Linked DNA regions of Homo sapiens. The protein of the gene in region 1 purifies or fractionates together with the protein of each later gene. This does not show direct contact. Each region holds a gene or a part of one and is shown in the gene's direction. Other genes may lie near its edges.

What was found. The genes of interacting proteins can lie anywhere in the genome.
Region 2: the proteins of RAB40A (region 1) and AMBRA1 purify together in Homo sapiens (affinity purification with mass spectrometry; one large-scale study listed by BioGRID and IntAct). This does not show direct contact.
Region 3: the proteins of RAB40A (region 1) and COPS7B purify together in Homo sapiens (affinity purification with mass spectrometry; one large-scale study listed by BioGRID and IntAct). This does not show direct contact.

The regions. Positions count from the first base shown.
Region 1 is NC_000023.11:103,512,990-103,516,489, reverse strand, and holds part of RAB40A (ras-related protein Rab-40A), read left to right. Parts: intron 1-3,500.
Region 2 is NC_000011.10:46,545,524-46,549,023, reverse strand, and holds part of AMBRA1 (activating molecule in BECN1-regulated autophagy protein 1), read left to right. Parts: intron 1-523; 5' UTR 524-643; coding exon 644-778; intron 779-1,148; coding exon 1,149-1,207; intron 1,208-1,727; coding exon 1,728-1,911; intron 1,912-3,247; coding exon 3,248-3,420; intron 3,421-3,500. UniProt on the Homo sapiens protein: Substrate-recognition component of a DCX (DDB1-CUL4-X-box) E3 ubiquitin-protein ligase complex involved in cell cycle control and autophagy.
Region 3 is NC_000002.12:231,796,445-231,799,944, forward strand, and holds part of COPS7B (COP9 signalosome complex subunit 7b), read left to right. Parts: intron 1-2,414; coding exon 2,415-2,520; intron 2,521-3,500. UniProt on the Homo sapiens protein: Component of the COP9 signalosome complex (CSN), a complex involved in various cellular and developmental processes.

The DNA.
Region 1 (3,500 bases):
ATACAATATCAAAAAAATCCTGGCAACACTGTACACTATAGGGTCTCAGTAGTTTATCCTCGTGATTGCATGGCTGACTGGGAGCTGTGGCTCACTGCTGCTCCCTAACCAGCATCACAAGAGTATAATACTGCGTTTTGCTAGCCCAGGAAAATATCAAAATTTAAAACTTGAAGTACAGTTTCTACTGAATGTGTACCACTTTCACACTATCATAAAATTGAAAAATTATAAGTCAAAACATCAACAGTCAGGGAATGTCTGTATTTATGATAAAAACTATATCCCCTAAAACCTCTGCTACTTGTGAAATGTTTCAGATAAAAAACAGAGAGAACTATGAAATTAGTCCAGCTTAGGAAAACCTTTACTCCTCCCTAATTGTATCTCCTTCCGTCTCTGCTATAGATAATCAGCACCCAGAAAGCAATGATTATAATTCCCATATGTTGCTTTATCCTTTTATTCCATATGAGAGCTTCCCTAAATAAAACATAGTATTGTTTTGCATGTTTCACCACAAACACACATACACCTGATCCTTACACTCAAGAGAGCATTATGACATGTTCAAGGGGAGATCTTTGTCAAGATGCTGGCACGGTATTTGGTGTGTCATTCACAGTGCCAGTGTTTGCTTCCTTCCCATCTCACCTCTTCTGATCTTTAACAGGGATGTTGTTTCATAATCTGGATAGCATCACTATATTTTAGTGAGTATTTGGGAATGTAAGGGAACCACACACACTCATCTATATTATGTAGGAGGTTAGGTGCCATCTCTGTGCTATGCAATGTGATGAAGTTGGGATGAGGGATGAGTACTCACTCTTTTCTATTGTATGATGGTATGGTAGTGAGTTACACTTAGTGAACCTTACCTTGCTCATCAATAAAATTAGCATATTGCTATTTACCTCACAGGAGTGTTATGAGAAATGAGCAAAACTAAAGAAACCATCTGATACATAATACTTCAATAAATATATATTTGGTCTCCCCTCTGTTTTCCCTTCCTCAAAAGACTTAAACATGAACATCCCACAGAGATTATTTAAATTTGAAACATTGGGAAAGGAAACAAACATACTCATATGTTATAGAACCTTTGGTGACATTTCTTTGTGGATGAGATACCTGAGAATGGTGGAAGTTTGGGATCAAATAATCACTTCGTTACTTTTTATTTGATGTGTTCTTCTATTCCTTTTTACCTTCCATTTTGACACTGGAATAGAAACCTTTGTTTCAACCCCAGAAAGGAGGCAGTACAGAATAAAAGAGCATAAAGATGAGTATTCTGTACAACAGACTGAACAGGAGACCTGGGGACTGAATGCCAGACCTGTCCTTGTCTAGAAGACACTTTCCCTGAGCTGGACACAGCCCTTATTCAGAAAAAGATTGTATATCCCAATGGTTAGGGATGGTGACTTGAGAGTCAGAGTTTAGTTTGAACTTGGAATCATTTAATAACTCATTTCATGCTGTCTGGCAAATCTTGAATGTCTCAATATATTAGACTCACATGCAATGAATGTACATTATGATGCATACATACAGAGTATAATGGGGGTAATATACAAACATAATACTCTTTTTTTAAGTTAATGAGTAATAGGATTACTTGATTAATTATATATTTATTTCTGGACATAACTATATTTTTCACAACTTCTAAATTGATACAAATCATTTTTATAATCAGAACTAGTCATAGAAACATTTATTGTTCTGAAATATTTTAGACATAAAGAAACTTACAAAAAGAATATACTGTATATACTCATATTAAGAAATAAACCATTATATGTACAACTGAAATTCACTTAAAGTCTGGGCTGGGTGCAGTGGCTCACACCTGTAATCCTTGTACTCTGGGAGGTTGAGACGGGTGGATCACTTGAGACCAGGAGTTTGAGACCAGCCTGGGCAACATGGTGAAACCCCATCTGTACAAAAAAATACAAAAATTAGTTGAGCATAGTGGTACAGGACTGTAGCCCCAGTTACTTGGGAGGCTGAGGTGGGAGGATCACCTGAGCCAGGGAGGTCAAGGCTGTGCTGAGCCATAATTGTACCACTGCACTCCAGCCTCGGTGACAGAGTAAGACCCTGTCTTAACAACAAAAAAAAGAAATTCAAAGTTTCTTCAGCTTGCATTAGCCTCCTTCTTACAAAGGAGTAATCATTAACAAGCATTTAGACTTTTCACTATTTATCCTTTGTTACATATGTATATATTTCTGCATGAAATATGGTGTTATTTTGTTGCGTGTTTTATCTGTAGTTGTCTGGCTATCTGACGGAAAGGAGAAAGGAAGAAACATGAGAAGAACAAATACCCATTCATATCTCAACACTGTGACCTGCCATATATGCCTCTTTACATGTGTACTGTCTTTCAGAGCTACTAAACCAGACACACCACTTTTCCAGTTTACATGCTATAGAGAGCACTAACAGAATTGGTACATATCATTTTTCAGTCATTTAAAAAAAATGTGATGTGTTCAAAGTCTTAAGAGTTTCCCAGGTGACAGCCAGCCCAAAACAATGTTGCAATGTGTCTGTGTGTGTGTGTGTGTGTGTGTTTTCTTGAGACAGGAGCTCTTTAGCCTCCTTATGTTGCTCAGGCTGGAGTGCAGTGGCTATTAACAGGCACAATCACAGCACGCTACAGCCTAGAACTCCTGGGCTCAAGTGTTTCTCTCACTTCAGCCTCCCAAGTAGCTGGGATTTGCAGTGTATCTCGAATGTGAAATATCTTCCCATTGTCCAGGCATAATTTCCCAACTTTTATTCATGCTATTACACATCTATGTCTGTAAATCTGGAACTAATCTGGGCAGTCTTGGTGAAAAAAAGTCAGTGATTGCCAGGAGTTGGTTTTTATGTGTCCAATCTACTATCCAAATCCCTCGGTTAGTTTAGGTATGCATCCCATTTAGAACTTGATATGATTTGTTATTACATGTGATTGGCATGTGTATATTTTCTTTCGGTTTAATATTTTTAATTGTATAAGTGAGGTACTTCATACGTGTGTTGATTACTCCTGGGGCCCTGGGCCGAGTGAGACTGTGACTCTACTTTTACCCTGAATCCCGCTGTGTTAGGATTCTGTCCTCTGGAAGCTGTGGTGCTGAGCCCTAGTGGTTTCATGCAGTCCCTCCCCTTTCCCTCCCCTGTGGCAGTCACTGCTTGGCCAACTAGGTGGGTAAACAGAGGAGCCTGCTGTCAATTCAAAGGACTTTATTTGTGCTAGTGCAGAAAGAAGCATGTTGTGAAACCACTTTCATCTCATGACCTTCACTAAAATCTTGAAAAGTAGAAATGTCATCTGGCTGTTGAATGTGAGGTTCATCTGAGAGACGTGCTTGCCCTTCCCCCGGGTGTCTGTAATTTCCCTAAACCTGCCCACCTGGGGATGTCATGTATATAGATTCATACTTTAATTCTAGGACCACCCTAGTACCTAATTGTCTTGGCTTACACAT
Region 2 (3,500 bases), on another chromosome or scaffold:
AAAGGTACTCCTAAATAATCTTTTTTTTTTTGAGATGGAGTCTTGCTCTGTCGCCCAGGCACTGGAGTGCAATGGCACTATCTCAGCTCTCTGCAACTTCTGCGTCCTGGGTTCAAGCAATTCTCCTGCTTCAGTCTGATGAGTAGCTGGGATTACAGGTGCCTGCCACCACACCCGGCTAATTTTTGTATTTTAGTAGAGACGGGGTTTCACCATGTTGGCCAGGCTGTCTCAAACTCCTGACCTCAAGCAATCCAATCTCCTTGGCTTCCCAAAGTTCGGGGATTACAGGCGTGAGCCACTGTGCTTGGCCTGATCCTTTCTTTAGCTACAAGGTTGAGCTATGGAGAATATGAGAGTATGAAATATTTTTGGAAGAAAAATTCTGGGAGGAAGGGTCTTTTCTGAGAAAGTGTCATTAAATAGGAAAAGTATAATTTCCCTTTTGAGCTAGAATTGTATTTGCAATTAGAAGCTTCTCGTTGCAGAAGTCGTTCTTTGACATTATTCTTTGTTCCTTAAGATTTCCATGAGGACAACTTACAAGGACCTGTATGGCCTCATTTTAGCTGCTTCAGTGTGTTGGAGCTGTTACTTGCTCCTTCATTTCCTGGGCCTGGTGTGACAGTGGCTACTGAGCGCCATGAAGGTTGTCCCAGAAAAGAATGCTGTCCGGATACTCTGGGGGCGAGAACGGGGTGCTCGGGCCATGGGAGCTCAGCGGCTTCTGCAGGAGCTGGTAGAAGATAAAACCCGGTGGATGAAATGGGAGGGCAAGGTAAGGAAAATGGCTATATTTCACATAGGATTTGTGCTGGTGATGGTAGAATGAGACCTTAGAATGGGTTAACAGCAGAGAGTTGGGATATATTTATCTTGTGTGGGAGAGTTGACATATCTGACTTAGGGAGTTGTTTGTAAATTTGAAAGAACTAATGTGCTAGAAATATCTTTTTCCTTTAGAGCTAGACAGTTTTCCTGAAGGTAATTTAGGTTTATCTCTCTCAATTTGTAGCTTGATCATTGTCTCCAGTTTTTAAGCCTACACTGTGAATGCTAATCTAGAATGGTTAATGTGCTTTTGAGATACGGTGAACCATGGTCTACAAATCATGTATTTTAACTTTTTTTTTTTTTTTGTCTCCCAGAGAGTAGAACTGCCGGATAGTCCACGCTCTACCTTCTTATTGGCCTTCAGCCCAGACAGGTACTCAGTATTTATCTATAACTTAAGATTTGTGATAACAGTGCTTTCTGTATATTTGGCCTGGCTTGATCTTCCAAGTCAGTCCCTAAAGTCTCTCTGAAGTACTGTATGAACAGCACTTTGGCCCCGTGTCGGAAAGGGAAAGAAAGTAGATGAGCAGTGCTAACCTGAAAAATCATGAGAACAAGCAAAGGAAACTGAGAGGATCAAAACTTGGAAAGTTTCTCAATAACAATCATTTGCCTGTGTGATACAGCTCACCAGTGGTATGATGGTTTTTCCAGTGGGAAAAAATATTTTCCGAATGTGGCATGTGTCATTTGGGGACAGTGTGGACAAGCCAAAAGCTTTTAAAGATCAGAATATTTCTGTTTGTAGATATACTGCCTAACATACAAAGCTTAGTTTCTTTCATGTTGGGATTGGCAGGTAGCATCAATATTCTATGTCGTCCAAAGTTGATAAGATTGGTTACCCTTCCACATGCTTCTGAATTCAGTTCTACTCTTTGATTTTCTAGGACTCTCTTAGCCTCCACCCATGTGAACCATAATATCTATATTACGGAGGTGAAGACTGGCAAGTGTGTTCATTCCCTGATTGGACACCGCCGTACTCCATGGTGTGTCACTTTTCATCCCACCATCTCAGGCCTTATTGCTTCTGGCTGCCTAGATGGGGAGGTTAGGATTTGGGATTTACACGTGAGTATTTCCTTAAGATACCCTTTTCTTTTGGTGTTCTAATTTTTTTTTTTTGAGACGGAGTCTCGCTCTGTTGCCCAGTGGTGTGATCTTGGCTCGCTGCAACCTCCGTCTCCCAGGTTCAAGTGATACTTCTGCTTCAGCCTCCCAAGTAGCTGGGATTACAGGCATGTGCCATCATGCCTGGCTCATTTTTGTGTTTTTAGTAGAGACGGGGATTCACTATGTTGGCCAGGCTGATCTTGAACTCCTGACCTCAAGTGGTCTGCCTGCCTCGGCCTCCCAAAGTGCTGGGATTACAGGCATGAGCCACCATGCCCGGCTTCTTTTGGTATTCTAAATGCAGAGACTTGTTTACCATTGGTTTTTTAATTCTGGAAGAGCCTAGCCAGATTCTTAGGACTACATCTGAATATATTGTTGTAGACATTGCCCACTTAATTAATAGGAAGTCTAATTCCCTGTCTTCCATTCCTTTTTTTTTTTTTTGCAATAGCTTAAGCATGCCCTGAGATTGTCTTCCATTCTTGCTAAGATGAACATCTACTTTTGCTTCCTTCAGCCCGTTGTGACATAGTACAGGAGGCTCTAAGATATGTTCAGGTTGGATTTCTGTTGTCTTAGGGCATCTTTGCCTAAGTACAGATATTCCTGTACTCCGATCATGATCATCAAAGCAAGATCCTCTTTGTCCTAGTAACTGGCTAGCGGGTTGTCTTGCACCATGTTGTGCACCGAGCTTGAGTTTTTCTCAGGCTTTGCATGGAACTGTGGGCTGGGCGCGGTGGCTCACGCCTGTATTCCTAGCACTTCAGGAGACCAAGACAGGAGGATTGCTTGAGTTCAGGAGTTTGAGACCAGCCTGGGCAGGATATTATACCAAAAATATTATACACAAAATTATATAAAATTAGCTGAGCATGGTGCCATGCGCCTGTGGTCCCAGCTACTTGGGAGGCTGAGGTGCGAGGATTGCTTGAGCCTAGGAGGCAGAGGTTGCAGTGTGCTGAGATTGTGCCACTGCACTCCAGCCTGGGTGACAGAATGAAACCCCCTGTCAAAAAAAAAAAAAAAAAAAAGAAATAGGAACTGTGTATATATGCTTAATGCTTGTAGATTGTGACTAATTTGAAGAACTGAACTGATTGTATAGTATTTATCTGATAAATTAGTGGCACTACCAGATCGCTGATCTTCTACATCTTTTTACAGAGGATGTATTTAAAGTAGTCCCTAGACATAGTCATTTTACCTTAAATGGACCTTTCTTGAAATTGACTTCCCAGTGTGCTGGTAGCTTGTAACCTGAGAATATCTGGAATTGGTTCATTCACAGGGTGGCAGTGAAAGCTGGTTCACAGATAGCAACAATGCCATTGCCTCCCTGGCTTTCCACCCTACGGCTCAGCTCCTGCTGATTGCCACTGCCAATGAGATCCACTTCTGGGACTGGAGTCGACGGGAACCCTTTGCTGTGGTGAAGACAGCTAGTGAGATGGAACGGGTCCGGTGAGTGCGCTGCCCCATCTGCATTGTCTGGCACAGGACTGACGTGATAGAGAACATTCTACTGGCTGTCACCTTGGAAG
Region 3 (3,500 bases), on another chromosome or scaffold:
AGTGGAGCTACATTTGTGATCACAGCTGTGTGATAACAGGAGTCATTTCAGGCCTCCTGGTGCCTTGGTTGTAAAATAGTTCTTTCCTTAAATGCAACTGGGAGCTATTTAAAAGTGGGCTATAAAATGCCCAGGGTTAGCAGGTGGAGCCTATGTGTCCTAGCTGTGTGAGGCTAGTCCTGCCCTTTCCAAACTCACGCTCAAAGTTTGACCAAACTCAGGAAGGCTAGTGTTTGTAAGATTCTTTCTTTGTTTTTATTATTTTTTCTATCCCTGTTGAAGTTAACATGTTTATAAGATTCTTCGGATAAAAGAACTTACGTTCAAAATCAGTAACATATTGGGCTAATGTTTGTAAAACACCGTGAGGGACATGGAAGACAAGGAGTGGGTCATTTTAACTTGGAATACAGACTCATACAAAGAATATCTGATAACTATACTCTGGTATATAAAAAGCATTGGGACATTTGTGTTTTCTCTGTTTTAATGGAATTTGATATTTGTAAGAGCTGTCTCACATTCTACGAGGATTCACTGTGGAGTGATTTAAATTATTTGGGGCTTATAAAGCCAGATGGACTGATTGGAGAAGTTTTAGCTCAGTTTTGAAGGAAGGCCAGGGTTAGAGTATACCTGGAGGTGAGGAGAGTGTGTTCCCAGGCAGGCACGTGGCATGTTGGAAGCCATGAAGCAGACCCGGTGAGCTTTGTACACAGGTTCGGGAGGGAGAGAGAATCTCTGCTCATCCCCGAGAGAAGCATATCCAGAGAGGAGCAGTGCCACTTTGACTCCTTGGGGCCTGATGTCCCCTGAGTTTCCCTCACTTCAGCTACTTTTACACCCCAGGACATGTGTTGCTCACCCCTCACCCCAAGTTCTGTCCCAAATATAGCCCCAAACACCTTCTCTATACAACATCTGCCACAAGTGGAAGTTTTCAATAGCTTACAAAACTTAGAATAAATAAGAAATAAACTTAGAAATACCCCAACACAAAAATGGTCTGGCACACAAAATCTAGTTTCTGAACCTGCCAAAGTTGGCTGTCCTATTCTGTTTTTGAGATGGCTGACACAGCTTTTTATGTCCATAGTCTGGTTTCCTGTTTTTAAGCCCCCAATATGTTTGACATAGAGGTGCCAGACTAACTGGTTACCATGGGATGTTTACTAGTAGAAACTCTTACAACTCATGTTTAGGCACTGGAGGTAGATTGAAACAAAATTCATAGGCTGAGGGCTACCACATATATGGCAAAATGCTCACACTGTTGGATCTTAAGTGGAGGGTATGGGGATATTCATTGTAGTCTTTCAACTTTTTCATTTTTAAAAAAATTAATAGTGGGGAAAATAGGAGGAGGGGTATGGCAATTAGGAAGTAACTTAAACTTCTGAGAAAAGGCGGAATCTTCAAAACAGGATGCTTTTAGGAAATCTTTTTTTGTTTGTTGTTTTTTGAGACAGTTTTGCTCTTGTTGCCCAGGCTGGAGTGCAATAGTGCGATCTCAGCTCACCGCAACCTCTGCCTCCCAGGTTCAAGCGATTCTCCTGCCTCAGCCTCCCTAGTAGCTGGGATTACAGGCGTGTGCCACCAGGCCTGGCTAATTTTGTATTTGTAGTAGAGACGGGGTTTCTCCATGTTGGTCAGGCTGGTCTCGAATTCCCGACCTCAGGTGATCCGCCTGCCTCGGCCTCCCAAGGTGCTGGGATTACAGGCATGAGCCACTGCGCCTGGCCTAGAACATCTTTTTTTTCTGTTGAGAAAAGGATTACTCAGTGCCATCTATAAAATCTATTCTACCTTCTTTTTTTTTTTTTTTTTTTTGCGGCAGAGTTTCGCTCTGTCACCCAGGCTGGAGTGCAATTGCGTGGTCTCAGCTCACTGCAACCTCCGCCTCCCGGGTTCAAGTGATTCTCCTGCCTCAGCCTCCCAAGTAGCTGGGATTACAGGCACCCGCCACCACACCTGGCTAATTTTTGTATTTTTAGTAGAGATGGGGTTTCACTGTGTTGGCCAGGCTGGTCTCGAACTCCTGACCTGGTGATCCACCCACCTCGGCCTCTCAAAGAGCTGGGATTACAGGTGGGAGCCACTGCACCCGGCCTGTCCTACCTTCTTTAATCGTATGTGCTACAAAACCATCTTCCATGAGATACAAAGTTGAAAATTAAAGCTGTATTCTAAGAAACTAGCCCCAGACTACCATATTTGTCTCCTAATGTCCTGCATTATGTATTTAGAAGTGCTTGTCTTTGGGAAGGAGTGAACGGGCAAGAGATGTGGCAGAGGGAGTATTAAAGGAGGTCCCTGTAAGATACTGGGGAGAGCTGTTGGGGAAGAATATTTCTGAGCCTGGAAGAGACTTCCCAGGCCATTCTGCAGCTCAGGGCTGGTTTTCTCCATTGTAGGTGTGATGGCTGTGAAGCAGTTCTACTGGGCATCGAGCAGCAAGTTCTGAGAGCCAACCAGTACAAAGAGAACCACAACCGAACTCAGCAGCAGGTAGAAGCAGAGGTAAGGAAGGAAAGGAACATTTGTTTCTCTCTCCAGGCATACCTGTTTATTCGTTTGCAGTGTTTATGTTTTTGTTTTGCGAATCTTGGTGTAGATGAAACAAGCAGTCACCAACAAGTGGGCCTGGGCTAGGTGCTGGGTTACAGGGATGAGTGTGACACGGCTCCTGCTCTTGGTGTTCTGTCTCTTTTTTCTGATTCCTGGTCAGCATAGGGTGATCAATCAGGCTTGGAGAACAGAGAATGTTGTAGTTTCAGTACACATGTACTTTGCAGCTATAGAGCAAAAGAAAATGAGTTTGGGGATGGATCTTAAAAATGGATAGAAGGATGGTGGTAAGTTACCAGGTGGAGTGGAGGGAGGGGTACAGCTGGGCAGGGGCATGTGGGGCTTCAAGGCCCTGGGAGTGTTCTGCTTCTTAAGTTGCGTGGTGGGCACATAGTTTCATTTTATTCTTTCTCTGTGAACTGTACATATATATTATAAATGTGTAAAATGCATGACATGTTTCATACGGAAAGAAGAAAGGGATAAAATTTGGCAGATGAGCTGCAAGTGAAGTAAAGAGGATGTAAGTGTGGTTTTAGTGACACCTGGTTGTTGAGGAAACTTTTAGCTTCTTGGACAGATGTAGGCCCCAGCCTTTGCGTTATGGGCATTTGTGTACCTGTAACCTGACACATGAAGTGACCTCACTTCACAATTTATTTGGAGCCCTGCACTGATTTTCCTTAGCATTGGAAGTTCTTTTCTAGTGTGAATGGAGTTTGAAGTATTAATGATGCTTAATGAATTTTGAAAATCAGGTGTCTAAGAGTGGCGGAGTGGGACCCGTAATTCCAGCTAAGAAGCATAAGAGATGAGTAGATGGTGCCTTTCAAAGGGGGATTTGTGAAATTTGGAGTGATTCTCTATACTGTTATATGCACTCCTTGAAAATAAAACCTGTGTCCTATTTGTAAGACGAGCGTCTTGTCTCA